Homo sapiens: one gene and its partner. Each later gene encodes a partner of the first gene's protein in a complex. Each region holds a gene or a part of one and is shown in the gene's direction. Other genes may lie near its edges.

What was found.
Region 2: the proteins of UBXN2B (region 1) and VCP are in contact, whole or in part, in a cryo-EM structure (PDB 8B5R), measured with the Homo sapiens proteins. Residues at the interface, in NP_001071087.1 of Homo sapiens: Phe215, Ser216, Gly217, Glu218, Gln220, Leu222, Gly223, Leu225 (codon at 6,564); in NP_009057.1 of Homo sapiens: Arg113, His115, Glu132, Leu140, Ile182, His183, Cys184, Glu185, Glu187.

The regions. Positions count from the first base shown.
Region 1 is NC_000008.11:58,439,345-58,455,518, forward strand, and holds the end of UBXN2B (UBX domain-containing protein 2B), read left to right. Parts: intron 1-288; coding exon 289-426; intron 427-6,562; coding exon 6,563-6,724; intron 6,725-8,044; coding exon 8,045-8,207; 3' UTR 8,208-12,157; downstream 12,158-16,174. UniProt on the Homo sapiens protein: Adapter protein required for Golgi and endoplasmic reticulum biogenesis. Involved in Golgi and endoplasmic reticulum maintenance during interphase and in their reassembly at the end of mitosis.
Region 2 is NC_000009.12:35,051,626-35,067,799, reverse strand, and holds the end of VCP (transitional endoplasmic reticulum ATPase), read left to right. Parts: intron 1-982; coding exon 983-1,125; intron 1,126-2,418; coding exon 2,419-2,549; intron 2,550-3,514; coding exon 3,515-3,646; intron 3,647-4,719; coding exon 4,720-4,822; intron 4,823-5,449; coding exon 5,450-5,583; intron 5,584-5,661; coding exon 5,662-5,797; intron 5,798-6,110; coding exon 6,111-6,223; intron 6,224-6,620; coding exon 6,621-6,785; intron 6,786-6,876; coding exon 6,877-6,999; intron 7,000-7,274; coding exon 7,275-7,487; intron 7,488-7,998; coding exon 7,999-8,307; intron 8,308-8,580; coding exon 8,581-8,736; intron 8,737-10,269; coding exon 10,270-10,424; intron 10,425-10,577; coding exon 10,578-10,683; 3' UTR 10,684-11,736; downstream 11,737-16,174. UniProt on the Homo sapiens protein: Necessary for the fragmentation of Golgi stacks during mitosis and for their reassembly after mitosis. Involved in the formation of the transitional endoplasmic reticulum (tER).

The DNA.
Region 1 (16,174 bases):
TACATATAAATTGCTGTCTTAAAATTTAACTTTCTAAATACCAGAAGCTCTCCAAGATAATTGTGACAACCAAAGCATCCCTATGTTGAGAACCAGTAAGGAGTAATGTGAAGTGACTTTAAAAAAGATCTACAAGGACTGATCAGTCATTATGGAAATTTTTGTGTTATAATTTAAGCAAAAAATTCTGTTTTCCAGTGTAGCTCATGAAATAATTACAGTAATCTCAACAGTGTAGTTTAATTCTTGGAAAACTTAATGATAACTTTTTTCCCCCCTTTTTAAAAGAGAGATTCCCCTGGAGCTTCAGCGCCTTGTTCATGGTGGCCAAGTGAATTTGGATATGGAGGATCATCAGGATCAAGAATACATAAAACCTAGATTGAGGTTCAAGGCTTTTAGTGGAGAAGGGCAAAAACTTGGAAGGTAAAAATCCTAAAATGAGAAAAATACCTTTGTTGAACATGAATTTTTCTTTGAGAATAAGAAAAGCAAAATGACCTATGAAGTAAAAAACAAAAATATGAACCATGCACATTAGATATATACATCTGTTAATATTATATCATAATATTATATCATGTGATACCATTATATCATAATATTAATTGTGATATTAATAATACTGTAATTAATACTTAGATTGCAGTTACCATGTTTGTGGCCCTCTAAGCCGTATACATGTGTTATCTCACTTAATCTTTACAACAGCTCTTTGATGTAGATACTGTTATTACTTCATTTTGCAGATGCAGTAATTTGCCCAAGATTGTTGAGCTAAGAAATGACTAGCATGTGGGATTCAAACCCAGGCACTCTGACTACAGAGTTTGTGCTTTTCACCACTATATTATATGCCTCTTTCAGATTACCTGGTTTCAAAGGAGAGAATTGTAAAGGGTTGTCGATGAGATAAAATAATGGATACCTTACATCACAACTTAAGCATGCATGTCTGCCATCAGTAATGACCAAACTCTTGCAGCAGGAGCAATGTGCTTAGCTTTGTGATTTTCAATAGTTTTTAAACAGCCAAACCCTTTTTTCAAGTCATGGAAGTGCAATATGTAAAACCTGAGCTCCTCTGATTGTCGGTGAAAGAAGGCATTGTATCTGAGACATTTCCAAAGAACCTTAGGACTTTGAAGAGCACAATTTAAAAACCAACGCACATGGCAGAATGTATGAGTGGTTTCCTTTATAATACCCATGGCTTAATGTAATCTTAGAAATTTAAAATATGTTGGTAAAAGTTACCCTCTACTCGTCCACATATTGTTGCAGGTGATATGGAATTGCCACATTGGCAATGTTTCCAGTGTATTCTTTGGTGCATCCTTTGCTTCTCTTCATGTGATTCCTTCCCTTCCAAGCCCCCTTCAGTTGCCTCGTGTACACTGGTTGTCTATTCTCCCCTTATTTTTCAAGATAGGAAAAAATTCAATATTGCTTCTTTATGCTTTGCTATCTCTAGTCTCCCTTTCTGTATTCTCTTCTCCTGATAGAGACTGGCACTGGGGACATAAAGGAAATACAGGAATTTATGTTGACCTGTTTTTCTTAGGACACAAACTCTTTAATTTTAGGTCACAGGTTTACTTGGAAATTTTCTCCCTCGTCTCTCTTTACACGTCAGGCTTCTCTTTCTTTCTCTTTTTTTTTTTTTGAGATGGGGTCTTGCTCTGTTGCCCAGACTGGAGTACAGTGGTGTAGTCATAGTTCACTGCAGCCTTGACCTCCTGGGCTCAGGCAAGCTTCCTACCCCACTCTCCTGACTGGGACTATAGGCACTGCCGAGCGCAGCTCATTTTTTTTCATTTTTAGGTTTTGTAGAGACACGTGTCTTACTATGTTGCCCAGGCTGGTCTTGAATTCCTGGCCTCAAGCTGTTCTTCTGCCTTGGCCTGCCAAAGTGCCTGGGTTACAGGCATGAGCCACTATGCCTGGCCAGGCTTCTCTCAAATTGTATAATATTATGTTTTTACTCCTCTTGTTGTGATCAACATATATATATATATATATATGTATGTGTATATATATGTATGTATGTGTATATATAGTATGTATGTATGTTCTTAATTTTGTATCACTTCCCATTTTTACTTAATATTTATTGAGATTACGATTTTTAATTAGAATGCAGATAAAATGCCTAGTCATCTCTTCAATATATACATATTCCTTCTCTATTATTTAAATGTATGACCAAGAATTAATGTTGGACCGCACATCCTTGTTAGTAGACCTACAGTAAATCTAGACTTGGAATTGAAGAAGGTAGCATAAAGGGAAGGCAGCTAAGAAGAGCCAGTGATTATTAAACTCATGAAAATAACGATATTATCTGATGATAGTATTCACAAAGGCCAGTCATTTTCCTTATAAGGCAAATAGAGAAAATAACAGAAAAGAAAGGAGAAACTGATGGAAGAAAGTGACAGAGATCAGTGGTAATAATGCCATGTTAATTTACTAGCCATATTGATCAAGATTTTGATTATGGAAAACAGAATCTACTTGCTGGTAGTAATAGGTTTCTTACAGGATCTTGTGTAGTTTATAGAATATCTGGAAGAGGCAAGCAAACCAAGCTTTCCTTAGCCAGGAGAAACAAACACAGTGGAAGAGTGTTCCAGAGAAAACAACTATGTCCCCTAGTCAGGTGCTTGGTGCCCATGAAACTAGGGACTAGATACTAGAACATTCCATCATCGAAGAAATAAATGCCTCCACCACCTTAGTAACCACAAGAGCTACAGAGTTTCCACTTTGCAGTGCTTACTTCCACCAAACAAGTGTATGTTTGTTTGGTGGAAGGGTAGAATCATGAAATCCTAGCTGCAAGAGAGTCTGGGAGATGGAGTCTTTAGAATTTTCAGCTTCTAGTAGAAGGAGATAGCATGATGATGTGAGCCTATGTGTTCACAAACCCAAATGTTGAATAAGCAAATATCATATATTCTAAAGTGAAGAATTACATAGAACATTTTATATTAAAGATTTACATTAAGAAATATATTAAAAGTTTAATAGTTAACCTTCATTTAGAAAGTAACTTTCTAAAATGGCTTGGTTCTCAAGAGTTCAAGACAATTATTTACTGAGCAGGAAATAAAAAGAAGCAAGTAAAACAGAAATGAAAATAATCTATTGTCTTCCATAGATGGCAGTCTAATTACACACAGAATGTTACATAGATGGGAACTAAATCTTTTCATGTGATATACAATTATGGTGCAAACCAAAATGCTGTAAAAATGTTACATAGTACCCTCACATAATAGAAGAAAGCAAACCATAGATATAAAACTGCAAATTTGCAATGGTAGAACAAACTGTATTATTGAGTAAAAATTAGCTTGGTGAGCTAGAGTAGTGCCTAACAAAATCACAGAGTCATTTTTAATAGGGAGGACTAGCGAGTAGGCATTCTTGGTAGGCTTTTGAGCTGGCGTGTATAATGATAAAAATCATGATTTGAAGCTGATGTTTCTGCAGAAGAACAGTCACTGCCTGTTTGTCCTACTGTTCTCTTCAAAAGATTGTGCTTGCCACTCTCACTTACCTGAGATTTGACTTCATCTGGGGCCCTAGACCCTGAGGGCTGTCTTCTCTAAAACTTCAAAGCCTTACTTTATCTCAGCTCCTCAACAGCTGTGAGCTGACTGAAGCCTGACTGGGTTGTCAGCCCTGTGTGACTCAGTACTTCTGGGGACAGCCTCAGCTGTGCTGAGCAGGCAGTGCTGTGCCTCGCCAGTCTCACAGGCCTGAGCTGCTTTCCTAAACCCCCTCCTCGACCCCTGCCCCTCACTCTCAGCAAATTTCTTTGCTTCCAGCTTCATTGAGAAAATAGAACCTGACGGGAATTCACATTCTTATTATGTTTCCCTCCAGCCTTCAAGCTGGTCATTTCCATCCTCCTCTCCCTCCATAAGTTTGAAGAAGAGGGTGTTTCTCCTGTCTCTGAGGGAATTACAACCTACATCCTTTCCTGCCATTTGCCTACAAACCTTGTTGTACCAATTAATTTCTCTTTTCTTTCTTAAAAAATTTTCTTTTTAATGTAAAAGTTTTACTATGGCTTGATCAATTGAATGATAGGGAGAAAGTTTTAAATAGCAAACAGATGTGATTTTGACAGCTAAATATTAGAATTAACATAACTTGCATGGGCACAGTGGCTCACACCTGTAATCCCAGCACTTTGGGAGGCCGAGGCAGGCAGATGACTTGAGATTAGGAATTCAAGACCAGCCTGGCCAACATGGCGAAACCCCATCTCTACTAAAAATCCAAAAAAAAAAAAAAAAAAAATTAGCCGCATGTGGTGACAGGCACCTGTAATCCCAGCTACTTGGGAGGCTGAGGCAGGAGAATCACTTGAACTCAGGAGGCAGAGGTTGCAGTGAGCTGAGATCACACCACTGCACTCCAGCCTGGGCAACAGAGCAACACTGCATCCCAGAAAAATAAATAAATAAAATAAATTAATTAACATAACTTTTTAGGCTGGTTTTTTAATACCACACTACCAGCTTGTCCAGCTATCTGTCTGTGTGGTTCTGAGCATGTCTTTTAGTCTCTCTGTGACTCGGTTTCTTTTAGATAAAATGATATGGTTGGCCTAAATTATGTTGGAAGTCCATCCATTCCAGTTCTCAAATGTTATTATTCCATATACAATAGTTTCATTGTGACATACACACATTTTCTTACCTAGCTTCCCCATCCTCCATTTTCTGTTTTGAGAAAAAGCATACCTGGTCAGAATCTGCCTTAAAACAGAAAGCAGTAGATTACAAAAATAATAGGGAGGCAACTTGGTGTGTAGAAAGAGCCCAATATAAACCTCAGCTCTCTCACTTACCAATAGGAATATTGGGGGTAACTTTTTTTTTCCAGAGTTGTTGTTAGGATAATTATAATGCTAATAGCCAACTTTTAGTAGTGCCAACTATATAAAAGCACCATTTGAAGTGCTTATGTGTCCTAATTAATTTAATCTTTACAGCACTGCTGCTGTTGGCTCTCAGGCACAATAAGGGTAAGTGACTTGCCTGGTGTTACAGAATAAGTGCAGAGTTGGGATTGAAACCAGGTAATCCAGCTCTGAGAACCATGCTGTTAACACTGCTTCCCAGGCTGATGTAAATGAAATAATGCATGTGGCAGAGGTGGTAATGGTGGTAGTGACGATGATAATGTGTATACCTGGTTATCAGTGAGGCGGAGGTAAAGAGGACCTTTGCATTCAGTGTCTCATGTCTTTTCTCTTGGATTTTCATCCCCCTCCCTTGTGTAAGGAACGCTGGACTCTTGGCACAGTAAACCAGATTGGCAGTGCAATTACTTAGGCCCTCAATTCCAAATTAAAAAGAAATTCCTTAATATCTGATCATTTATTGTAAGTCATAATTTTAACCTTATGTATATTTTTATGTATCCTCAAATCAGTTCTAAAATTAGCATCAGGAAATAGCTAAAGAAAGAGAAAGTGTCAGCAGTTAGTACCAGGTAATTTTATCACTTTACTGTGTACTCTGAGAGAGAAGCTTTTTGAATGGAAGTAAGAGTCATGATGATTTAGATTGGACTAAAGCCCAAATGCTCATAGAACTTTTATACTAGTAATATGTAGATACATGCGTGTCTTTCTTCCAGAAGAAAATAATCTATAGGAAACCATCTAAATCTCAGAGTTCAAGAGAAAAAACTTCAAGACTATCAAAAATTCCTTAAGATGACTGAGAAAATTGAGCTAAATTTATTTGAATTATTTAACCAAAAGAGCACTCCTCTATTTTTGACATTCACTTTTGGCATATACTGGCTGATCATCCTGCTAGTGTTAGAAGGGGCTAAGACAGCAATGCCAGGGTCACTAGTAACCAAGTTCTAATGGTAAGATATTCTATCAAGCTTCATTATGAATTTATTGTCATGTAATAACATTTTATTCCTCAATGGTACTTAGAAGTTATTTCTCTTTTGCAAAGCAGTGCTTGAATCAGATGTGTTTAAATGATATTAACCAAGTCCAAATTAAATGAATTTAGTGCTGATAATATGTTCACAATAGCTGGCACCCGTTGAAACACTGTGTTCTAGGCACAATATTAAGGACTTACTGGTATAATATACCTTCATAACATAGTATTATTCCCTCACTTTATAAATGATAGAACTGGGATTCAAAATGATTGATGTACTTACTCAACTTTACACAGTTGACATGGCTGGGATGTGAAACCATGTCTGTCTGTGCTCTTAATGATTCTTTGACCCTAACTCAGAGTTGCTCGTATTTCTAAATAAAACTGGTTTGCTAAACAGTGATGAAGTTGCAAACAGTTAAATGAGGAAAGGATGCAAAGTTAGGCTTTTATGAGAGATTAGATAAACCAAATAAGAATCGTAGGATCCAAAATAACTTTAATATAATGAAAGAGGTTGAAAGAAGTATAGGAGACTCAAATGAAGCCATGTTCTAAGTGTTTATCGCTGTCTTCAGTTTGTCATATATTTTACACATTCAGATTTGTGTTTAATTCCTCTTTTTTAGCCTTACACCTGAAATAGTCAGTACACCTTCCTCTCCAGAAGAGGAGGATAAATCAATACTTAATGCAGTTGTTCTTATTGATGATTCAGTGCCAACAACAAAAATTCAAATCAGGTTAGCAGATGGGAGTCGTTTGATACAAAGATTCAATAGTACACACAGGTAAGCTTCTTTACCAACAGTGTCCTGTTTGCTGTTATATACACTGGATTGCTTATCTAAGTAGAACTGTATGTGACTTGAGTAATGAAGAATATGATATTCTTTAGGTTTACTTTTGAAGTAAGTTTTTGACAGAAGAAACATTTTTAAAAGGACAATAGCTGTGTTTAAGAAATGAAATATGTGGTATTTAAACAGTCTCTATAAACTATCCAAATACTAATGTGATCTCAGATATCACACAAAAATAAATTAAGAACTATAGTTTTACGTTGTTACTAAAACTATATGAAGTCGAATCAGATTTAATTTAACATAGTAAAACCTTTTGGGGACTTTATTCATTTAAAAATTTGTGATAATTTTGATTGGGATTAATTTTCTGTATAGCAAATACTTCATAATATAAATGTGTATTGTAAATCAAGTTTAATTGTACTTTTGTCAAGAACTTCAGATAGTTTTAAATGTTTCTTTAATATTGACTTGTACATCAACATTTGATTTGTCCATTGAAGTAAGACCCTAATAGATATATTTATGATTTTGGTTGAATTACTATGTTTATGTGAGAGTAATTTTTTAAAATTATTCCTATGATAGCACATTTCATAGTTTTAGACTCACCTTGCCACAGGCCAATCATAGTTACCTTTTTCTGGGTCATATGCTGCTAACACATTTTATACTCCGAAAAAAGTACAACCTGCATTTTTTTTTTTTTTTTTTTTTTTTTTTTTTTTTTTTGAGACAGAGTCTTACTCTGTCTCCCAGGCTGGAGTGCAGTGGCGGAATCTCAGCCCACTACAAACTCCGCCTTCCAGATTCAAGCAATTCTCATGCTCAGCCTCTTGAGTAGCTGGGATTACAGACAGCCACCACCATGCCCAGCTAATTTTTTCTGGTTTTAGTAGAGACGGGGTTTTCACCGTGTTAGCCAGGCTAATCTTGAACTCCTGGCCTCAAGTGATCTGCCCACCTCTGCCTCCCAAAGTGCTGGAATTACAGGCGTAAGCCACCGTGCCCAGCTGGACCTGCACTTTTAAAATAACAACATTAGTACACTTACTTTATTCATAACTTACCTGAAGATTGTTTCCATTTTACAGGAAAAGTAAATGTTAAGTACACACTAAAGTTACTTTACATTTTAACTGAAGCCTAAGATAAATCCTTCAATTGAAATACTATATATTAAAGAAAGTTACAACACCTTTATATAAAGATTAAAATTTTGTGATTTTTATTATGATTCAGTTTTAAGTTTACATGAAAATATGATTTTTTATATTACAAATTATTTTTGTCTTATTTCTTCAGGATCCTGGATGTCCGGAACTTTATTGTACAGTCTCGTCCTGAATTTGCGGCTCTTGACTTTATTCTTGTGACTTCATTTCCGAATAAAGAGCTAACAGATGAAAGCCTGACACTGCTAGAAGCAGATATTCTTAACACTGTGTTACTCCAGCAACTAAAATAATATTGTTCCTGTCCATGCAGTAGCATGTGGGAATAGATGATGTGCCGTATTAATAAGGACAATACTTCAGCATTAAAAACAGCCAAATTATTTTTATTATTTTTACAGATAAATTTTGGTTTTATTGTTATTCTGTCTTCCAATCTGAATATAGACAAATTTGGATTAGGAATAGACCTTGAGATAAGTATGTTTGAGTTTTTAGTTGAAGGACTGGCTTATGTTGATAGTTTTTGGATTTCTAGGCAAATGAGTTGTTACATGCTTAGTGTTAATGTAACAACATTTGTTTGCAGAGAAAAATGAACAAAACCCCTTTTTGATAAATGCATTTGGTAAAATTTGCACTAAAGTTTCTTGATGCAGCATTGACCAACAGCCATTAAGAAATCTTTTGATCAAATAAGTTGAAAATTTGTCTATAATATATACTGAAACGTGTCTTTTGATTTTGAAATTGTTTGATCATACAATAATTATTTCTCCTATTAAGATTTTACACATCCTTTTTACTTACTGATTTAGATATATTACTAGTATCAGAAACTACAGTTTTGCCTTGTATTTTACAGAATTATGACTGTTGTGAACTTAAACAGAAACACATAAAGGTCAGCAATTCTTTTTTTTTTTTTTTTTGATATGGAGTTTTGCTCTTGTTGCCCAGGCTGGAGTGCAATGGCATAATTTCTGCTCACCGCAACCTCCGCCTCCCAGGTTCAAAAGATTCTCCTGCCTTAGCCTCCCAAGTAGCTGGGATTACAGGCATGCGCCACCATGCCTGGCTAATTTTTGTACTTTTGCTAGAGACAGCGTTTCTCTGTGTTGATCAGGCTGGTCTCGAACTCCGAACCTCAGGTGATCCACCCACCTCAGCCTCCCAAAGTGCTGGGATTACAGGCATGAGCCACCACGCCCAGCCTAAAGGTCAGCAGTTCTTAAGAAGATATGGTAAACAGCAACAATATTTTAAAATCAAGTAATTACAGTTCCTCCCAGAGCTTGCGTTGATCACATTCATTTATTCATTCAACACATTTTTCTAGGAAACTCACTGTATACACTAAACACTATTCTGTGTGCTCAACCTAGAATGTCTTCTCCAGAACAAGACTAGTGTAGAAATACAGGAATGTAAATTCTGTCAGACGGACTAGATCTAAAGAATTACCAGCATAAATGTTTGCATTTCTGCTGAAGCCAGAAGCTTTTCCTTCTTCCTAGACACCATTTCATCCTTAATTATTACTTCTGGTTAGTTTTCCATTGCCACCATAACAAGTTACAAAATGTGGCTTAAAATAGCACAAATTTATTATCTTCACAATTCTGTAGGTTAGGAGTCCAGGTTAAGAGTTTCGCGGTGCCAAGATCAATTTGTTGGCAGGGTTGCATTCTGTTAGGAGGCTCTACAGGAGAATCATTTCCTTGTCATTCCACCTTCTACAGGACATCCTCATTCCTTGGCTTGTGACCTCCTTCTTCCATCTTAAAAACCAGTGCTGTTTCATCTCTATGACCCTTCTGTTACCACATCTCTCTGACACCAGTGTGGAGAGGTTCTCTGCAGGACTCATGATTAAATGAGGCCCACCGGATATCCAATCTAGGCTTATCTCCTTGTCTTGAAATCCATAGTAACCTTAATTACATCTGCAAAATCTCTTTTACCATCTAAGGTTACATACAGGTTTGGAGATTAGGACATTAACATTTTACATGGAACATTATTCTTGCCTACTACAGTTCCCACCCACCCCCCGCTCCACTCCTGTGTTAAAGATTCAGATTCATCACAAATAAATTTACATCACTCATAGGTGCTCAAAAGTCACAATCCATTATTACAGCATCAACTCTAAATCCAAAATCTTATCTGAGTCTCACCAACTCAAAAGTCTCAAATCTCACATTGAAGCCATCTAAATTAAGTTTGGGAGAGGATCTGTGTGTGATTTCTGGGACATAATTCCAACTGTGCACTTGTGAACCTAGAAAACAAGTTATCTGTTCCCAAGTATGATGGCATGACAGGCAGACAATAATAGTTACACACGTTCCTGTTCAAAAAGCAGAAACAGATGGAAAAAGGAGCCATCAGCACCAATCAATTTACAAAACCAGCGAGGCACCCTTCTTTAAGTTTCAAGGCCTGGGAGTAATCTTCAGCTCACTGCTGTTCTCTGGGCTTGTTGACTGTCTCAGAGTCATCTTTACTTTTTCACAAAAGGTAGCACACGTTTGCAGCTGAGTATCAACTTATCAGTTTGTTCTTCTTTTATATTCTCTAAAGCTTTCTGTTAAAAATGGTGGTGCTTCTGCTGCTATAACGTTGTCAAGAAACTTGTGGGTCTTTTACATATGTCACAGGGATGCACTCATTTAGATAGGAGGCTCCTCACGTATCTTTCCTGGAAAATCCTGTCTCTGTTTTTGGCTTTTTCTGAAATAGCTGAGAGGATCTATGATTCACACCCTTAATATCTTCAAAGAGTCTTGTGTGTGACCTGATATTCAGACCTTTTGATGTTTCTGAAGTATTAGCAAAAGGTTATACAGCCATATCTTCATCACTTTCTCTAGAGTAAAGGCTGTCCTGACGGTGAATCTTAGTTTTAGTGGCTTTTGCCATTTGAATAGGCCGCGAATTTCCCAAATCATCAAGTCCTGGTTTCTTTATATTTAACAGGTCTTCCCTCAATCTACCTCTTTCCACATTTTACTATAATCAGCAAGAAGACAGCAGGCTGTACCTTCCACAGCTTGCTTGGAAATATCCTCAGCTAAATATTGAAGTCATCACTTAAAAGTTCTGCTTTACACATAACGGCAGGACACAACTCAGCTTAGCTTTTCGCCACTATGTAACAAGGACTCCTTTCCTCCACTTCTCCAGTAACATATTCCTCATTTTTTACCAACAGTCTATTCATGATGATTTAGATATTCTATGGCAATCGAGGTATTCTCTATTATGCTCCTTTCTTCAAGGCCGCCCTAGCATTAACATTCCATATTTCTACTAACAGTCTGTTTAAGGCAGTTTAGCTTCTTTTCTGGCATGCTCCTCAGAATTCTTCCAGCCTCCACCTACTGCCCAATTCCAGAGCCACTTTTCTACTTTTAGGTATTTGTTACAGCAGCACCTCAAGTACCTAGAAAACTCTTTTATGCCTGCTTCTCTGCCAGATGACTTGAATATGGTACTAGATTTGGAATTCACCTTTCTCCAGGGTCACTGTTTATTTCAAAGAGGTGAATTTACCTGTGCTAGGGTTTTCACACTGGGAGTGCTACCAGAACTACCACAGGATGAAAGTGGTGAGCCCACCACTGCAGAGAAGTTTTCTCAGTGCCGTAATATAGAGGAATTCTCAAAATAAGCCCTACTCCTTTTCACTTACTGAAAACAACTTGGATAATGTGTAACAGCCAGCCCCATTTCAAAAAGATTACCAGGGGTAAAACAACTTTTTCATGGGTCAAAATCATCTTCCGAAGAAAATGATTTCTTAAAAGAATTGAACATTGTAAATCAAAGGGCATTGTCCTGTTTTGGATTAACAAAACAGGAAAAATAACCAATCCTTGTAAAATTATTTGAAATTTTCTTGTTTTTATCAGTTGAGTGCCTATAGATGCACATACAAAAACAACTGCCATTTTTGTATATAATAGTCTTCCAAGATAGAGATTTACATTAGGAGAGAATTAAACATCCAGGAGGGATGAACAGTATTTCATGTGTGCTATGTAGTGTTTTGCTTCATTGAGAGTCATTTTCATGAATTATTTTTACTACTGCAGTCATCTTAAATTTATAATCATCTCAAAAAAGATGTCACAATGAACAGACAACCATCTGTGAGGTCAGTCATTTTGCATGATGTATGTAATCAAAAAGTTTGAAATGTCTGCTTACTAATAAAGAATGTTTTCACTGAAACTTATTGGAAAGGTTTTTCAAATTTTCTTTGATTTGTAGTTTTGAGTCCTGAATAGATTGTTTTAACATGAATAACATTTCCTGTGGTTTAATTTCCCTTGGCGCACCTTTGTCAGGGACAGGGAAGGAACTGGTTGTAGCATATTATCTGAATATCCTGTTACTGTTTCTGTTTTTATTCTACCCAAATAAAAAGGTTCAGGTGCTTCTTTTTTGCCACAATGGATTTCTGAAAACCTTGTCACAACTGTGAAAGGAAAGCAAATCTTGGGACCCCAGAATCACTAAGCTAAAGGGAAAAGTCAAGCTGGAAACTGCTTAGTGCAAACCTGCCTCCCATTCATTCTATTCAGTTATCTCTGCTCACTGAGATAAAGGCCTGTCTGATTGCCTCCTTTGGAAGGGCTCATCAGAAACTCAAAAGAATGCAACCATTTGTCTCTTACCTACCTGTGCCCTGGAAGTCCTCTCCCACACTTCGAGTTGTCCTACCTTTCCATATTGATCCAATGTCCATCTTACATATATTGATTGATGTCTTATGTCTCCCTAAAATGTATAAAACCAAGCTGTGCCCCAACCACCTTGGGCTCATGTCATCAGGACGTCCTGAGGCTGTGTCACACCTGTGCATCCTTAACCTTGGCAAAATAAACTTCCTAAATCGAGACCTGTCTCAGGTATTTGGGGTTCATGCAACGTCTATTGTTAAAAAGTGCATCATGTTGAAGCGGCCTTGTCTGGGGCGACACCCGAGGTTCGTTGTCTCACAGCCACAGAGATCAAAAATGCGGACACACAGGTTAAGAGCTGAAGTTTAGTAGGCAAAAGAAAGAGAAGATCTCTGCTACCAAGAGGGGTCCTGGAAAAATTGGTTGCTGATCCGCAGTGAAATGTAGGGAGTTTTATAGATCAGCTAGTGGGGCGGGAGTAGTGCTGATGTACATAGGGTGCAAAAAGCCAGTTAGGAACAGGTGTGCCATCTGCATAGGGTATAAATCTCTGGCAGCCCCCACCCCAATCTTCTATTATGCAGGTGGGTTCTCTGCCTGAGCTTCTCCATGTTGCCCATTTCTTTCTTACTGTACACATGCTAACAAAAAAGGGAAGATGGAGTTTCCATGGTGGACATGTCTGGCCCCCAGGTAACCCTTTTCTATTGGCACAGCTGCAGGCCTCCTCCCGTGCAATCTTCCAGCTTCCTTACCTATGTTTGCAGCTCGATCTTTCAGGCTGCTCTTTGTTGGAAAAGAAATGATTTCTAGGGCTGCTTTTTGTTAAAAGGGAAGTTCTGTTGAGGACTCTTTTGCCCTCACTATCTGCCTAAATAATTTATTTCTATATCCTGTATTAGTGTTTGCCCCTTAAGAGTGTCCCTGATCAATGATGTGAATATATATGTGACCAATATTGTCATAAAGGCTAATAATTTCTATAATCCTCTGTAAAGTTTTTAATTAAAGTATCTTCTAACTCAAATAGTTTATAAAAAGCCCTAGTACACATGTGTAACCATGTATATGTATGTGTGTGTGTGTGTGTTATAGCACATGAAAATAGCATGTGTGTCCTAGAACTAATAATTAGCTCTAATCCACTTAGCTTAACAGTTTTGCCTCTTTGGAATTTATAGCTATGACCTGGGGATCTGTGCAGGGGAAAATGCTCTTTTACAAAGTTTGAACTTCATGATTCATTTTCCTTTAGATAAATCTTTCTATATTAAGAGAGGAGACCACCCCTCATATTGTCTTATGCCCAATTTCTGCCTCCAAAGAAGTAAAAACTAAAAGGCAGAAATGAAACCCACAGGCAGAGAGCCTGGCGCCACGCCCTGGGCCTGGTTAAAGATCGACCCCTGACCTAACTGGTTATGTGATCTATAGATTCCAGACATTGTATGGAAAAGCATTGTGAAAATCTCCGTCCTGTTCTGTTCCGTTCTGATTACAGGTGCATGCAGCCCCCAGTCAGGTACCCCCTGCTTGCTCAATCGATCATGACCCTCTCATGCAGACCTCCTTAGAGTTGTAAGCCCTTAAAAGGGACAGAAATTGCTCACAGGGAGCTCGGTATTTGGAGACGTGAGTCTTGCCGAAGCTCCCGGCCAAATAAAGCCCTTCCTTCTTTAACTCGGTGTCTGAGGGGTTTTGTCTGCGGCTTATCCTGCTACAATATAAAGCAGAGACATTCAGAATCATCCTCGGCAGTGGCTACCTTAAAATTTCCTTTGAGTCCTATAGTTTGATTTCATATGGCTTCACTGGCACAATTCCAAGTGCACCTACTCAAAGGAAAGCTACAGGGAAAGAGAATGCTGATAAACCACTGTTTTGTTGATTGTATCACAACACTTCTTGCTTTCTTTGGAGGGCGTAACAGTTAACTAACTTATTCGCATGGACTTAAAGACTTCACACATAATTAGCAATACAATGTTTTCTAATGGCTTATCATTATTGTTGAATTAAGGTGTGTATGATAATTAGGCAACATTAAAAGAGGACTAAGAAAGGTTTTTCCTCACAGGATTCTCTTTACTGTCCTTTACCTCCTTCAGTTTACACTGGCTTGGAAATAGTGTTGAAAATGGCTCACAATTAGTGTCAATATTTGAGCCAGTGCCTTTTCTCACTTTAACCTTGGAGATAGAAGAATATTTAAAATGAGTACATGTCCTTTCTGTTGTATGCCTTTGTATTGATTTTTGGTTTGTGTTTTCCTTACATAGTGTACCTTTCAATGTACTTTTTAGAACATTCTTAATTATAAAAGGTCTTTCCTCATGGTTTCTGTATTTAACATCTTCCCTATTTTATTCTTCAGTTTTATCTTTGTGGGAAAGGCTTGTTTAACAGATTTTATCATTTTTATCAGGAACGGTAAAAACTGTAATGTTTAGTTTTCTATAAGTATGTTGATTAAAAAGTAGCAACTATAAATACTACGGATATTCAGAGCATCAGTAGACTTGAAAGCGAAAGCATGAATTAGTTGATACAAGTGGAGGTCCTGTTTGCCCTAGCCTGGAATTTGTGACTGTATGTGGGCTTTTGAGAAAGAAGGTAGTAGGATGAAGTGATATCTTATAGAAAGAAATGTTCATCCTTTCTACAAACTGATAACAGATTCAACATTCCAGGGGATGAGGTGGTCGTTTTTATTAATACAGTAAAATTACATGCAAATACCATGTTTAAACATGTACTTATAAAATACATAATATTGAGGCTAGGAGGGTGTTCTTTTCCCCTTTGAAAACCTGTTATAGGCCGGGCGCGGTGGCTCATGCCTGTAATCCCAGCACTTTGGGAGGCCAAGGCCGGCGGATCACGAGGTCAGGAAATCGAGACCATCCTGGCTAACACGGTGAAACCCTGTCTCTACTAAAAATACAAAAAATTAGCCGGCTGTGGTTGCAGGCGCCTGTAGTCCCAGCTACTCGGGAGGCTGAGGCAGGAGAATGGCATGAACCCGGGAGGCGGAGCTTGCAGTGAGCCGAGATTGGGCCGCTGCACTACAGCCTGGGCGACAGAGCGAGACGCCGTCTCAAAAAAAAAAAAAAAAAAGAAAACCTATTATAAGTATTTGTAATGTGAGTAGATGTTAGTGTCTAGAATATTGTGTACATTGGTGTTCTATGGCAACCCAAACTAATCTGACTTTATATTATTTAATATTAAGCATGTGTATGGTACTTTTGCAATAGAGTAAATGACTTTTGGAGGTTTTTTTGTTTTGTTTTGTTTTCTCTTTTTTGTTTGAGATGGAGTCTTGCTCTGTTGCTCAGGCTGGAGTGCAGTGGCAAGATCTTGGCTCACTGCAAACTTGGCCTCCTGGGTTCAAGCGATTCTCCTGCCTCAGCCTCCCAAGTAGCTGGAATTACAAGCGTGCACCACCACACCCTCCTAATTTTTTTTGTATTTTAGTAGAGACGGGTTTTCACCATGTTGGCCAGGCTGGTCTTGAACTCCTGACCTCAAGTGATCCACCTACCTTAGCCTCCCAAAGTGCTAGGATT
Region 2 (16,174 bases), on another chromosome or scaffold:
TCTTGGCACCTGTCGATGCAGGAAGCCTCCTGGTCATGGGAAGACTTATGCTTCAGGGTTGTCTTTAGGTTTTGGTTCTGCCTCCCTGGGACTTCAAAATCCATTTCTGCAGGTCCCTTGAGACAAATTGGCGTTCCTGTAACTTTCTTGATGGCTTTATTTTTTCCTACTAGAGGTGTAATTTATCATACTTATATCCTGGCTTAGGATACCACTCGAGGGTGTGTATGTATATGCCAAATAATCTCCTCACTACTCTCACTAGTATGTCTAATTGATGGCTTGTGTTGGGGTTGGAATGAGGTGGGGGTATGGGCATGGAAGGTGAGCTGCTAGCAGGTCTTTTAAGCCCCTAAGTTAACCCGGGAGAGAGGAATAGTTGGAGCCAGACCTGGGATAGCTCTCAATGTGAGTGATTTTGCTTGTTCTTGCATAATTTTAGGCAAGAGGTTACCCCATCTTGGAGTCATCTCTAGCCACTCCTACCCAACCAACCATCACCTGGCCAGGATCATCTCAGGCTTTTGATTCTTTTGAATGGAGTCTAAGTTTCATGTAGCTTTCTTCTTGGGAGTGCTTAGTCACTTCCTCAAGGTGTTCTGACCACCTGGCTGAGATAATTTTGTTTTTTTCACTTCTGTTTCACTGACCCTGACAATTGTTAGCTTAAGACCTTCCCTTGTAATATTGGGTCACCAGTATTAGCTAGAAGGGGATCATCCTTGGATATCTCCCTGAAGACCCTGCATGTCTTTGTGGGGTTTCTAAATGTGTGGCTCTTGATTTTGGCTCACTGATTAGGAGTGAGTGGGGCTGTTCCTTCGCCCTCACTTCCACCCTGTTCTCCTTCCTCTCTTCGCCTAAAGCCATCCTGCCTTTTCTTTTTCACTTACTATCAGCTATCTGTGCCAGGCCCTTTTGGACACCCAGTGCTTGGGCCCGAAGTGTGGTTGGTAATATGGAGTCTGCTTGTCATCCTCAGCATCCAGCCATGCCCTGATGTGAAGTACGGCAAACGTATCCATGTGCTGCCCATTGATGACACAGTGGAAGGCATTACTGGTAATCTCTTCGAGGTATACCTTAAGCCGTACTTCCTGGAAGCGTATCGACCCATCCGGAAAGGTGAGAGCTAATTCTGAGCTTAAGGATTATTGACTGTAGGGAATAAACCTTGGAACATCTTTATCTCATTTTCTTTTTCTTTTTTTTTTTTTAAATCTTTTATGCTTTTCCCCTGTATTTATTTATTCATTTTTTAAGAGATGGGGTCAGCTGGGCACCGTGGCTCACACCTATAATCCCAGCAATTTGGGAGGCTGAGGCGGGTGGATCACTTGAGGCCAGGAGTTTGAGACCAGCCTGGCCAACATGGCGAAACCCCATCGTGGGCACCTGTAATCCCAGCTACCTGGGAGGCTGAGGCATGAGAATTGCTTGAACCCAAGAGGTGGAGGTTGCAGTGAGCCAAGATTGGGCCACAGTACTGCAGCCTGGGTGACAGAGCAAGACTCTGTCTCAAAAAAAAAAAAAAAGAGACAGGGTCTCACTATGATGCCCAGGCTGGTCTCAAACTGCTGGGCTCAAGTGATCCATCTGCCATGGCCTCCCAAAGTGCTGGGATTACAGGCATGAGCCATCAAGCCTAGTCTCATTTTCTTTTCTTTTTTTTTTGAGACAGAGTGTCGCGCTGTCCCCCAGGCTGGAGCGCAGTGGTGCAATCTCGGCTCACTGCAACCTCCGCCTCCTGGGTTCAAGCAATTCTCCTGCCTCAGCCTCCCAAGTAGCTGGGATTACAGGCGTCTGCCACCACGCCCGGCTAATTTTTGTGTTTTTAGTAGAGACGGGGTTTCACCATGTTGGTCAGGCTCGTCTCGAACTCTTGACCTCAGGTGAGCCACTGTGCCCGGCCGCTAGACTCATTTTCATATATTTGTATACACACACATGCAAACCCTGCACACATATTCATATGTCTTACCCTCTTTTTTTCCTCCATCCTTCCTTTGCTCCATCTCTCCCCTTCTCTGTTCCAGGAGAGTAAGCTATCTTTATGGATCTCTGAAGGAGAAAGTGGTCCATTTTGGCTGGGTCAGGGTCCAGAGTGCACAGTTCTACCATTGGTGGTTGTAGTGAAAACTTGGGCTACCTATATGGCAGAAGTCAGAACTTGATGGGCTTCTGACATGTCAGGTTTTGTTCACTGACCTCTTGTCAGAGGGACTCTTCACAGTTTACCTTTCTCATCTTGCCTGCTGCTTATTAAGACAGGTGGGGTGGAGTTGGGGAGAGGTAGGGCAATATCTAATGAAGGGCACTATCTAATGAGCTTGGCATTTTGACCCCAGGGTCTGATGAGTTCTCACTTTGTCTTGTAGTTGACACCTCTAACTGTGCTTGTACTGTTTGCTCTCGCAGGAGACATTTTTCTTGTCCGTGGTGGGATGCGTGCTGTGGAGTTCAAAGTGGTGGAAACAGATCCTAGCCCTTATTGCATTGTTGCTCCAGACACAGTGATCCACTGCGAAGGGGAGCCTATCAAACGAGAGGTGAGTTTTCTCCCTGATTCCAGTATCCGATTTTATGATTACTCAGTGTGGCATCATGTGGTAACTGTCAGGACTGGGTGCTCGGCCGGCTGCGGTGGCTGACACCTGTAATCCCAGTACTTTGGGAGACTGAGATGGGCAGATCACTTGAGGTCAGGTGTTCAAGACCAGCCTGGGCAACATGGTGAAATCCCATCTCTACTAAAAATACAAAAATTAGCCAGGCATGGTGGTACACATCTGTAATCCCAGCTACTCAGGAGGCTGAGGCAGGAGAATCGGTTGAACCCAGGAGTCGGAGGTTGCAGTGAGCTGAGATTGTGCCACTGCACTCCAGCCTGGGTGACAGAGTGAGACTCTGTCTCAAAAAAGAAAAAGACTGGGTGTTCTTTGGAGAACTAACCATCTTTCAGGGATGAGAAACCTGCCAGCTATTCATTTCTGGGCCTAATTGTTTCTTGGATTTACCTAATGCCAGGAATTTCAAAAAACTAGACTGAACCCAAAATATATAAGTGATTGAAATCATTTTTGAAGTAAAGCTGATGGTGGCTTCAGGCCTCTGCCCATTCCCAGGGTTTCCAGCTTCAGATTTTAGAGACCCCTTCTCAGTAAGACTACGAGTAATGTGAGAGGCAAGGACTGTGCTAGAAATCTTTGCCTTGGGATTTTTGTAGTTGTTCTTTGAGGCCGGATCCCTTTAGAGGAGAATCTTTTTTAAATTTAATTTAATTTTTAATGAGATGGAGTCTTGCTGTATTGCCCAGGAACTCCTGGACTCAAGCATTCCTCCCACCTCTGCCTCCCAAAGTGCTGGGATTACAGATGTGAGCCACCATGCCGGGTTGAGAATCTTCTTATACGGTAGGTTTTTGCACACTAGGTAGTGGAATGATTTAGAGAAACTCAGCTTTTGCTGATATAATATTCTTGCCTTCTCCTTTCTTTATCTCCTCCATATTCAGGATGAGGAAGAGTCCTTGAATGAAGTAGGGTATGATGACATTGGTGGCTGCAGGAAGCAGCTAGCTCAGATAAAGGAGATGGTGGAACTGCCCCTGAGACATCCTGCCCTCTTTAAGGCAATTGGTGTGAAGGTGAGCATCCTGGGCTCTGGAATCAAGTCTAAAGTGGTGCCAATGTCTAATCCTGTCCCAATGTCTAATCCTGGGACTGTTTTCATGCATGGCTTTCATTATTGCCTTGGATTAGAGGGGCAATAACGTATCCTTTAGTTTACCTAAGGCTCTAAATTCATTAGAGCTGATGGTCTAAAACCAGAGTAGGCTAATCAAATTGTCTGTTGTGTGCGTGTGCGCACAAAACACACACACATATATATATGGGTTTTTCTTTACAACTCTTAGAATATAAAAGCCATTCTTGTATCAATGGACCCTGTAAAAACAAATCTCACCATAGTTTGCCAGCCTGTCTAGAGCAATGTCACCCAGTAGAAGTAAGGAAGTTAAGGAAATTTTCAGAGTGTTAAAGGGTTCTGAGTCTAAAACATTTGAGAACTATTGGTCTAGAGTGTAGCTTCTCAATCTTTTCCTAGTGGGAAAGTGTTTCCATGGAACACACTGAAGATGAAGTTACTCATTTTCCTAGTGGGTGGCACACAAATAATTTCATTTTCTATGTGGACAGTTTACATGTTCTGCTTGTGGATGAGGCCATAGAAAGGGTAGTGTTGAAGAAGAAAAATGATGATTGTAAGGAACAGCATTCCAGTGTGATAAATTCTGGAGGGCATGATTACTGGAGTGAGTGATCCTCTGGCAATGAAGAAAATAGACCCTGCTCTCTTAAATGGCTTAGCTAGTCTTTGGCCCTTGGTCTGTCTAAAATTGAGCCCTTAGTGTAATGGCCTCTTGCCTTTCCCTAGTCATGTATCTTCAAACGCATTTGGACTACAGTTTCTCTGCCCTTAGTCTCCTATGCAAGTTGCAATCATAAATGTTGCCCACTTTCTAGCAGTATTTTCCCTGCTAGTAATAGAAATGAGTGTGGCCTAAAGTAATTGTCTTCTTAGCATTTACTGCGGAGGGCTTATTCTTAATATTGTCAGGGTTGAAGCCTGATTCTCACCCTCTCTGGAGCGCTAGTCAAGCCATTTTAGGGTTTGGGAGAAGGTGGGAACCTAATCACACTCTGCATTGGTCCACAGCCTCCTAGAGGAATCCTGCTTTACGGACCTCCTGGAACAGGAAAGACCCTGATTGCTCGAGCTGTAGCAAATGAGACTGGAGCCTTCTTCTTCTTGATCAATGGTGAGATATTTGGTTCATCTTATGTCTAGCTAGACCCAATTTTGAACTGGGCTTATGAGCTGGAGCACTTATGAACACATCCTTTTTGCACCCATGCCCTCCTTCATGTTTATAGCATATTTCTTATGCTGGGGTATGTTACAGACAGAAGAGCAATAAAGGGAAGATATTTTACATTGGTGCTCCCTGTCCTGCCCCCTTTGAGAAAGATTGTGGACAGACTGCAGAGCGGGAGCAAGCTAGAATGAGAAATCAAAGGGTGAATGGTTAGTGATTTGAGAGGGTTTGGGGCAAATGAACTTTGATCACTGGCTCTTGGAGAATGCTGTTTAGTGGTGTGCCATCTGGTGTGCCATCTCTCTTGCTCTAGCCAGAGGTCCTAGAGCATTTGCTGTCACCTTTACAGTTCAACTGTGAGAAGAGTATAGTGAGTCCCTGGGCTTCTCTCCAGCCTTGCCTGGTGGCTGTCCTGGGATAATGGCTGGTAGAGGATGTGAGAAGTAGGCAGAGGTTACCACCTTCTCACCCAGGACCTGTCTCTGGGCCAAACAAGCAAGATAACTGATTTTTGGGAGGAATTGGGAAAGACTATCATTTTGTTATTGTCTCCATTCTGTATCCTTTCAGGTCCTGAGATCATGAGCAAATTGGCTGGTGAGTCTGAGAGCAACCTTCGTAAAGCCTTTGAGGAGGCTGAGAAGAATGCTCCTGCCATCATCTTCATTGATGAGCTAGATGCCATCGCTCCCAAAAGAGAGAAAGTAGGAGCTTACCTGAGGGGATAGAGGGGGGTTGAAAGGCCCTGACTTCACTTCTGACCAGACATCCTGTTCTGGCAGACTCATGGCGAGGTGGAGCGGCGCATTGTATCACAGTTGTTGACCCTCATGGATGGCCTAAAGCAGAGGGCACATGTGATTGTTATGGCAGCAACCAACAGACCCAACAGCATTGACCCAGCTCTACGGCGATTTGGTAAGGACTCCAGATACTTTTGACCCCGTCCTTGCTTAGGTCCTACTTCTCTCCTTCATCTAAGTCACCTAATCCTCTTGAAGCCCTTCACAGTGATTGGGTCCAGGGGTCTTTTTCCTTTACCCTACGTCCTGTCTAGAGTGACCAACCACCCTGGTTTTCCTGAGACTGAAAGGTTTCCCAGAGCTTGAGACTTTTTTAGTGCTGGCATTAGGACAATCCTGTGCTGGCTGAGATGGTTGGTCACCCTAGGCCTGTCTCTTACCTCTGGACTAGAGATGAGCCCTGTTTATGTTTGTGTACTGTCCCACAGGTCGCTTTGACAGGGAGGTAGATATTGGAATTCCTGATGCTACAGGACGCTTAGAGATTCTTCAGATCCATACCAAGAACATGAAGCTGGCAGATGATGTGGACCTGGAACAGGTGAAGTGATGATGATGGCTGACCAGGCGTTACAGTGTCTCTAGGCAGTTGCTGGGAACTGGCTAGAGACATAAGGTTAAGATGTGAGGAGATGGGTTTTGATTTCTGGACAGGGGAAAGGAAGTAATCTGAGATTGAATCCAGGAAATGGGAGTTGGCATTTTTCATAGTTGACGCTGCATTTAGAGTAAATCAGAATTGTTGGAGCAGCCTTATTTCTAGGTCCCAAGTCCAGAATTAAGTACTTAAAACCCAGCCCATAAAGGTATTGATAGTATATATTCAAGGAAATGAGAGGACCCAGGGATAGCAGTCAGGGGAAGGATTCTATTGTCTCTGAGCCTCCTGCAGCAGCTGGGTCTTTGAGGCAGCATAGTAAGTAGATCTTTCTCTGCAGGTAGCCAATGAGACTCACGGGCATGTGGGTGCTGACTTAGCAGCCCTGTGCTCAGAGGCTGCTCTGCAAGCCATCCGCAAGAAGATGGATCTCATTGACCTAGAGGATGAGACCATTGATGCCGAGGTCATGAACTCTCTAGCAGTTACTATGGATGACTTCCGGGTAAGGACCACACCCGTGCCTCAGGTACACACATACGTGCTTTGACCCCTCCCTTGATAAGTCTCATCCCCAGTTTTCCCTCCTTTTCTAGTGGGCCTTGAGCCAGAGTAACCCATCAGCACTGCGGGAAACCGTGGTAGAGGTGCCACAGGTAACCTGGGAAGACATCGGGGGCCTAGAGGATGTCAAACGTGAGCTACAGGAGCTGGTCCAGGTAGGGCAACTTGGTCCAGGGTGAGTCACTGTCTCAGTACATTGTAATTGATCTGGGTGATCTCAGGGTGTCAACACATTTGCTGCAAGAGTTGTGAGAGCACGACTTAGGAACCTACTGTTCTTAGGTTTGAGGCACTAAGGAGTCTTCTTCTAGAGAACCTGGATCTGATACCATTGGGTACACCATGAAATAATGGAGGGGATGCTTCTGTTTAGTTAGGTTTCTTTCAAAATGTGGAGGTAGCCTTGAACCCTCTTTCCTTTTCCTCCTAGTATCCTGTGGAGCACCCAGACAAATTCCTGAAGTTTGGCATGACACCTTCCAAGGGAGTTCTGTTCTATGGACCTCCTGGCTGTGGGAAAACTTTGTTGGCCAAAGCCATTGCTAATGAATGCCAGGCCAACTTCATCTCCATCAAGGGTCCTGAGCTGCTCACCATGTGGTTTGGGGAGTCTGAGGCCAATGTCAGAGAAATCTTTGACAAGGTGAGCTACAATAGGCTGAACTATGTATTGATTTGCCTGAGGGCAAGGAATAGAGGCTGTTTTTCTTTAAGAGGGTTGAAATATTCTTAGTGCTGGCTGCTCAACTGCACAGTAAGTCACTTGATTTTCTTTCTGAGGTCTGAGAGACCTAGTGTTATTTTTTTTTTCTCTCTCTCTCTCTTGAGACAGGGTCTGGCTCTGTTGCCCAGGTTGGAGGGCAGTGGTACAGTCATGGCTCACTGTAACCTTGAAACCTGGGCTTAAGCAATTCTCCTACTTCAGCCTCCTGAGTAGCTGGGACTATAGGCATGCGTCACCACATCTGGCTAATTTTTTATTTTTTGTAGAGACAAAGTCTCAGTATGTTGCCCATGCTGGTTTCGGATTTCTGGCCTCAAGTGATCCTCCCACCTTGGCCTCCCAAAGTGCTGGGAATACAGGTGTGAGCCACCACGTTTGCCTAGAGACATCTAGTTTTGTTAGTGCTTGAATCAATCCATTCCTCCTACAGGCCCGCCAAGCTGCCCCCTGTGTGCTATTCTTTGATGAGCTGGATTCGATTGCCAAGGCTCGTGGAGGTAACATTGGAGATGGTGGTGGGGCTGCTGACCGAGTCATCAACCAGATCCTGACAGAAATGGATGGCATGTCCACAAAAAAAAATGTGTTCATCATTGGCGCTACCAACCGGCCTGACATCATTGATCCTGCCATCCTCAGACCTGGCCGTCTTGATCAGCTCATCTACATCCCACTTCCTGATGAGAAGTCCCGTGTTGCCATCCTCAAGGCTAACCTGCGCAAGTCCCCAGTTGCCAAGGCAGGTGCAAGATCATGGGCTGTGGGAGACTTGCATGAGTCCTCAGGCTGGTACGGAGTGCTCTTTAGTTTCTGGACAAGATTCCACTGGGGTTAGGGTTGGTCTAAAGGGAAGGTAGAATTTTTGAGGATATCAAGATAATCTAGAATCAGGAATAAAATGGGGTGGCCAAAGAAGGGGCAAACTGTAGTTGGGAGTGCTCGGGTAGCCCAAAGATCTGCGTATCTCGAGAGGAGAGGCTAAATGCTAAGGTACCTCTGCTGCTGCTTTTAGGATGTGGACTTGGAGTTCCTGGCTAAAATGACTAATGGCTTCTCTGGAGCTGACCTGACAGAGATTTGCCAGCGTGCTTGCAAGCTGGCCATCCGTGAATCCATCGAGAGTGAGATTAGGCGAGAACGAGAGAGGCAGACAAACCCATCAGCCATGGTGAGTCTGCATCCTTTCCCCAGATGTGCCAATCATGGAGAGCCAGGCAGCAGCCACCACCATGCCCTGGAGTTGAGAGTAGAAGCTGTTGGAAAGATCATCTAACTGAGAAGAATTTTAATAGGGCATCAAAGATAAAGAATGCTGAGGTGAATCCATTCAATTTGGAATAAGGCCGAGAAGAGATGGTCAGGCTCCATTCTCAGTCTGAACCAAGCTCCATGAGGGAAATCAAAGTATGAGAGTGCAGCAAACACAGCAAGGTTTTTTTTGTTTTTTGTTTTTTGTTTTTTTTTTGAGACGAAGTCTCACTCTGTTGCCCAGACTGGAGTGCAGTGGCACGATCTTGGCTCACTGCAACTTCTGCCTCCCAGGTTCAAGCGATTCTCCTGCCTCAGCCTCCCGAGTAGCTGGGACTACAGGCACATGCCACCATGTCCGGCTAGTTTTTTGTATTTTTTTTTTAGTAGAAACGTGGTTTCACCACGTTAGCCAGGATGGTCTCGATCTCCTGACCTTGTGATGTGCCCACCTCGGCCTCCCAAAGTGCTGGGATTACAGGCGTGAACCACAGAGCAAGGTTTTGAGCTGAGATGAGACTCATATACTTATCCCTGATGGTTGGGGAAGGGATAGGGTCCACAGACCTCCCAAAATGAAAAGGCAAATTCATGTGTTTGTAAGTTCCATAAAGGTAAGATCTCTGTCATCTCACTTGTTTTCCACTATGTCTTGTGTTACCCTTAATTAATTCATTAAGTTCCAAACATGGGACTTAATGAGCAAATAAATGGCTTTCTTTCCCTTTTGAAGGGTCTGTGACATCCCTTCTCTCTCCCATAAAAGCTTAACAACTACTGATGAACTAATCCTAGGAGGTAGTCACATAAGTCACAGAAATTGGCCTCTCAATGGAAGAGATAGGTTTTGAGCTGGGCTGTGAAGAGAGTAGAATTTGAATAAAGGGAATAAGCAGCCCAAATAATGTGCTCTAGTAGTAGGATTGCAATCATTGGGAAACCCTGGGTAGATTTAAGAGTATATATGTCACTGGAAGTGAGACCGCTAGGTAGGATGTAATCCAAATGTGGTAAGCACTGAAAGCCATTGGCATTTCCTTTTAAAGTATTAAGGTTTATTAAGGTATGATATAAATACAATAAAATTCACTCTTTCTATATACCATTTCCATGCTTTATGACAAGTGTGTGTAAGTTCTATAACTACTACCACAGTTGAGACTTAAAATTTCTACTATCTCAAAAAGTTTCCTTAGCCACTTCAGTCAACATCTCCCCTCCTTAAGCCCCATCACTGATGTGATTTCTGTCCCTACAGTTTTCCCTTTTCCAGAGTGCATTGACAAGTTTTTAAGCAGAGCAGTGACTCAATTTTAGGAAGCATGGCCTAGCATCTTACCTCAGGTTGGATTGGAAGGGCAAGGAGACCAATAAACTGCAGTAATGGGAGGCCTGGGATGAAATCCAGGCTGGGCTTTAACTAGCCCTAGTGATCTGTGTTTACCAACTATAGGAGGTAGAAGAGGATGATCCAGTGCCTGAGATCCGTCGAGATCACTTTGAAGAAGCCATGCGCTTTGCGCGCCGTTCTGTCAGTGACAATGACATTCGGAAGTATGAGATGTTTGCCCAGACCCTTCAGCAGAGTCGGGGCTTTGGCAGCTTCAGGTAAGTTGGTTGGGAGCATTAGACAGTGCTTAAGTTACTTTGGGGACCTACACCAAAAGGGATGGGAGTCCTAAGGAAGCTAGAGGGGTAGTTGTGGAAATCTTACACAGGCCCTGTCCTAACCCTCTTTTTTGGCTTTGCTCTTGTACACAGATTCCCTTCAGGGAACCAGGGTGGAGCTGGCCCCAGTCAGGGCAGTGGAGGCGGCACAGGTGGCAGTGTATACACAGAAGACAATGATGATGACCTGTATGGCTAAGTGGTGGTGGCCAGCGTGCAGTGAGCTGGCCTGCCTGGACCTTGTTCCCTGGGGGTGGGGGCGCTTGCCCAGGAGAGGGACCAGGGGTGCGCCCACAGCCTGCTCCATTCTCCAGTCTGAACAGTTCAGCTACAGTCTGACTCTGGACAGGGGGTTTCTGTTGCAAAAATACAAAACAAAAGCGATAAAATAAAAGCGATTTTCATTTGGTAGGCGGAGAGTGAATTACCAACAGGGAATTGGGCCTTGGGCCTATGCCATTTCTGTTGTAGTTTGGGGCAGTGCAGGGGACCTGTGTGGGGTGTGAACCAAGGCACTACTGCCACCTGCCACAGTAAAGCATCTGCACTTGACTCAATGCTGCCCGAGCCCTCCCTTCCCCCTATCCAACCTGGGTAGGTGGGTAGGGGCCACAGTTGCTGGATGTTTATATAGAGAGTAGGTTGATTTATTTTACATGCTTTTGAGTTAATGTTGGAAAACTAATCACAAGCAGTTTCTAAACCAAAAAATGACATGTTGTAAAAGGACAATAAACGTTGGGTCAAAATGGAGCCTGAGTCCTGGGCCCTGTGCCTGCTTCTTTTCCTGGGAACAGCCTTGGGCTACCCACCACTCCCAAGGCATTCTTCCAAATGTGAAATCCTGGAAGTAAGATTGCACCTTCTTCCTCTCCTGATCAACATCGGTATGATGTCTCCTGTTGCCTCACCCTTTGTCTGCAGTATCACTGGATAGGACTGGTGGAAAGGGAGCAGCCTGACAGAGCTCCAAATGTGGAGAATATGGCATCCCTCCACCTATATTTGATGTGGACGGTAAGGCTAGGCCTGCAGGATCCCTTATCCTGACCAAAGACTGTGTTGGGGTGCCATTTGAAAATCGCAGGGTTGCAAAAGAATACAATCTTACTTGCAGGTGGATATTCTCTATACTCTCTTTTAATGCATCTAAAAATCCCAAACATCCCCTGGTTGGTGATCACTTACAGTTGTGTCCACCTTTATTTTATGTACTTTGATTAAAAAAAAAAAACTTTTTGTTAATATAAAATTTTAGTATTGAATTTTTTTTTTTTCCAAACAGAAAATAGACTATCCTCTTCAACAGTAATCACTTAGTGCTTCTAGGGTCAGTACAGTGATGCCTTACCCAGAGAGAGAGTAGTGCAGAGAAAATAAATTACTAAATTAAATATATGTTGATTGGCTTTGGGACATAATCTCAAAAGACAGTCCTGAACACCGTAATTTTGAATAAAATACTGTAATCTCCAAAGATCAAAATCCCTAAAGTCTAAAATTCTGAAAATCACAATCCCAAAAGGTCAAAATCCCAAAATACAATTCTGGAAGAAATACTAAACATTCTTCGAAAATTTACTTACATTTTTAAAAGCGTATTTATTTGAGAAACAACACAACAGAACGTTTCATAGGCCACTACACGATAAAATAGGGAATAGTAACATTTTTGCAAGATAAACACTCAGGTATACCAATGACAGTTGCACGGATATAACGGTGATGAGCAGATGAAACATTCATAAAGAAATAGGTCAAAAAGTGAAATGTATAAATGCTTTGTCACTATGCTTGGTAATTGTGGGCACCTAGCTTTATATAACTGGTCATCTGTAATACTGTGACAGAAAACCTAAGTCTTGATGAGATGGTTCAAAAACTGTTGCGTTACCACTGCATTGTCTCCCAAAGAGACGAGGTCTTGAGAAATTTTATCCTTCACAAATGCACGTGTACAAAAAACAGATGTCTCTTCGTTTATTGAGGAACTTTCAACATTTTTATGCACACATATAATGCTTACACACAGAGTCAACATTGCGGTCATGGAGTCAAATTTTTAATGTCCAAGGCACCAGAAGAAAAATCTGTCCTAGGCTGGGCATGGTGGCTCATGCCTGTAATCCCAGCACTTTGGGATGCTGAGGCGGGCAGATCACCTGAGGTCGGGAGCTCAAGACCAGCCTGACCAAAATGGAGAAACCCCATCTCTACTACAAATACAAAATTAGCCAGGCGTGGTGGCGCTTGCCTGTACTCCCAGCTACTTGGGAGGCTGAGGCAGAGAATAGCTTGAACCCGGGAGGCGGAGGTTGTCGTGAGCTGAGATGGAGCCATTGCACTCCAGCCTGGGCAACAAGAGCAAAACTCAATCTTAAAAAAGAAGAAAAATCTATCCTACCTCTTAGAGACCAATTTGCCTTCTGTATTTGTTCTCTCTGGGCCCCCGCCTGTTGGATGGTACCCACCAACATTGAAGGCAGATCTTCCCCACTCAGTCCACTCAGACTTACAAACTAATCCCCGGAAACAACCTCACAGACACACCCAGATAATGCTTTACCAGGTTTCTAAATACTCCTTAATCCAGTAAAATTGACACCTAAAATTAAGTCCACAATTCTGCTCATTGGCAACTTGGCACCCTTATGTGTCTAAACCATACTTAAGACAATAACAAGGTAATACTTCTGTATAACATGATGCAACTGTCTTGTTTACAACGAAAAACATACTAATCCTTTCCCCAGAATTTGAAATTTTATTTTGTCCAGGTTGTGATTTTAAGGATTTTGATCTTTTGGGACTTCAACATTTGGGGTTATGGTGTTTGGGATTGTGTCCTTCAGGATTATGATCAACACTGGTATTAGTCATCCTAGACTTTATGCTAGGCAAGACCAGGCTCCGTTTTGGTCTACATAGATAATCTTCAAGGATGCATGATACTTACACTGGTTGACTAAACTGGAGCAGCTCTGGAACTCATGCTGTGAAATGGGTATTTTTGCACTTTTGGTATTTGTTATTTCAGGAGGTTTTTAGGGAACAGGTGGTGGTTGGTTACGTGAATAAGTTCTTTAGTGGTGATTTCTAAGATTTTGGTGCACCTGTCATCTGAGCGGTGTACACCGTACCCAATGTGTAGTCTTTTATCCCTCACCGCCCCCCCACCTTTTCCCTGAGTCCCCAGAGTCCGTTGTATCATTCTTACGCCTTTGCATTCTCATAGCTTAGCTCCCATGTACGAGTGAGAACGTATGATGTTTGGTTTTCCATTCCTGAGTGAGTTCACTTAGAATAATGGTATTCCAGTTGCTGCAAATGCCATTATTTCGTTCCTTCTTATGGCTGAGTAGTATTCCCTGGATGTATATATACCACAATTTCTTTCTTTTTTTTTTTTTTTTTGAGATGGAGTCTCCCGTTGTCTCCCAGGCTGGAGTGCAGTGGCATAATCTCAGCTCACTGCAACCTCTGCCTCCCTAGTTCAAGCCGTCCTCCTGCCTCAGCCTCCCATGTAGCTGGGATTACAGGCACACGCCACCACGCCCAGCTAGTTTTTGTATTTTTAGTAGAGATGGGGCTTCACCATATTGGCCAGGCTAGTCTTGAACTCCTGACCTCAGGTATACCACAATTCAATTTATTTATCCACTCATTGATGGGCATTCGGGCTGGTTCCATTAGTTTTGCAGTTGCAAATTGTGCTGCTATAAACGTGCGTTTACAAGTATCTTTTTCATATAATGATTTCTTTTCCTCTGGGTAGATATCCAGTAGTGGGACTGCTGGATCAAATGGTAGTGCTACTTTTAGTTCTTTAAGGAATCTCCACACTGTTTTCCATAGTGGTTGTACTAGTTTACATTCCCACCAGCAGTGTAAAGTGTTCCTGATCACCACATCCACGCCAACATCTTTTATTTTTTGATTTTTTGATTATGGCCATTCTTACAGGAGTAAGGTGTTACCACATTGTGGGTTTGATTTGCATTTCCGTGATCGTTGGTGATGTTGAGCATTTTTTAATATGTTTGTTGGCCATTTGTATATCTTCTTTTGAGAATTGTCTATTCATGTCCTTAGAGCACTTTTTGATGGGACTGTTTTTTTCTTGCTGATTTGTTTCAGTTCCTTGTAGATCCTGGATGTTAGTCTTTTGTTGGGTGTATAGGTTGCAAAGATTTTCTCCCACTCCATGGGTTGTCTTTTTACTCTGCTGACTGTTTCTTTTGCTGTGCAGAAGCTTTTTAATTAAGTCCCATCTATTTATCTTTGTTTTTGTTGCATTTACTTTTGGGTTCTTGGGTCATGAAGTCTTTGCTTAAGCCAATGTCTAGAAGGGTTTTTCTGATATTCTAGAATTTTTATGGTTTCAGGTTTTAGACTTAAGTCTTTGAACCATCTGGAGTTGATTTTTTTTTTTTTTTGAGACGGAGTCTCCCTTTGTCGCCCAGCCTCAGAGTACTCCATCTCAGCTCAGTGCAACTTCTGCCTCCCGGGCTCAAGTGATTCTCCTGCTTCAAGCCTCCCAAGTAGCTGGGATTGCAGGCATGCACCACCACACCTCTGGCTAATTTTTGTATTTTTAGTAGAGATGGGGTTTCACCCATGTTGGCCAGGCTGGTCTCAAACTCCTGACCTCAGATGATCCACCCACCTCAGCCTCCCAAAGTGCTGGGATTTCAGGCATGAGCTGCTGCACCAGGCCTCGAGTTGATTTTTGTATAAGGTAAGAGATGAGGATCCAGTTTCATTCTTCTACATGTGAGTTGCCAGTTATACCTGTATAGCTGTGAACAAGGTGATAGCTCTTTTGGGGCCTCAAGTTTCTTAGTCTGACAAAATGATTGAAAAATGCTTTCTAAACTGTGGAAGCCTGCATACTTAAACCAAGAGGCAAATTGTATAGGCAGTCCATCTTTCCCCTCACATTATACCTAGAAAGAAACTGGAATGTGATCTTACCGTAGCTGATCACTTTATATAGGGTAAACACTGCGATTAGAGGTTGGGTTTCAGACCAAGAATGTGGTATCAAATAGAGGACCAGCAGTATGCCATAGAGGCAAAAACAAAGATGGAACAACATATCTAATGTCTTAAACTATGTTTATATTTGGCCAGGCGCGGTGGCTCACGTCTGTAATCCCAGCACTTTGGGAGGCTGAGGCGGGTGGATCACGAGGTCAGAAGATCGAGACCATCCTGGCTAACACAGTGAAACCCCGTCTACACTAAAAATACAAAAAATTAGCTGGGTGGTGGCAGGCACCTGTAGTCCCAGCTACTCGGGAGGCTGAGGCAGGAGAATGGCATGAACCCGGGAGGCGGAGCTTGCAGTGAGCCTGGGCGACAGATGGAGACTCCGTCTCAAAAAAAAAAAAAAAAATCGATCTATCTATATATATCTAGATAGATCGATCTAAGGTACTGATCCTACAAATTCCCCTGAAAGTTCAGTGGACACAATGCCCGTGAAGGATGCAGGTCTTCCATTTCAGCTGAACTGTGGCAAGTGTCAAATGGTTTGCTAACCCTTGCTCAGCCCCACAACCCACTAGGAGCTTTAAAATACTTAATATAGGATTTGGATTTTTTTTTTTATAAAGCTACTCAGATAAGTGTGAACTCACGTTCCCATGTAAAATGGAAATTCAGAATTGCATTGTCTTTGGAGACCA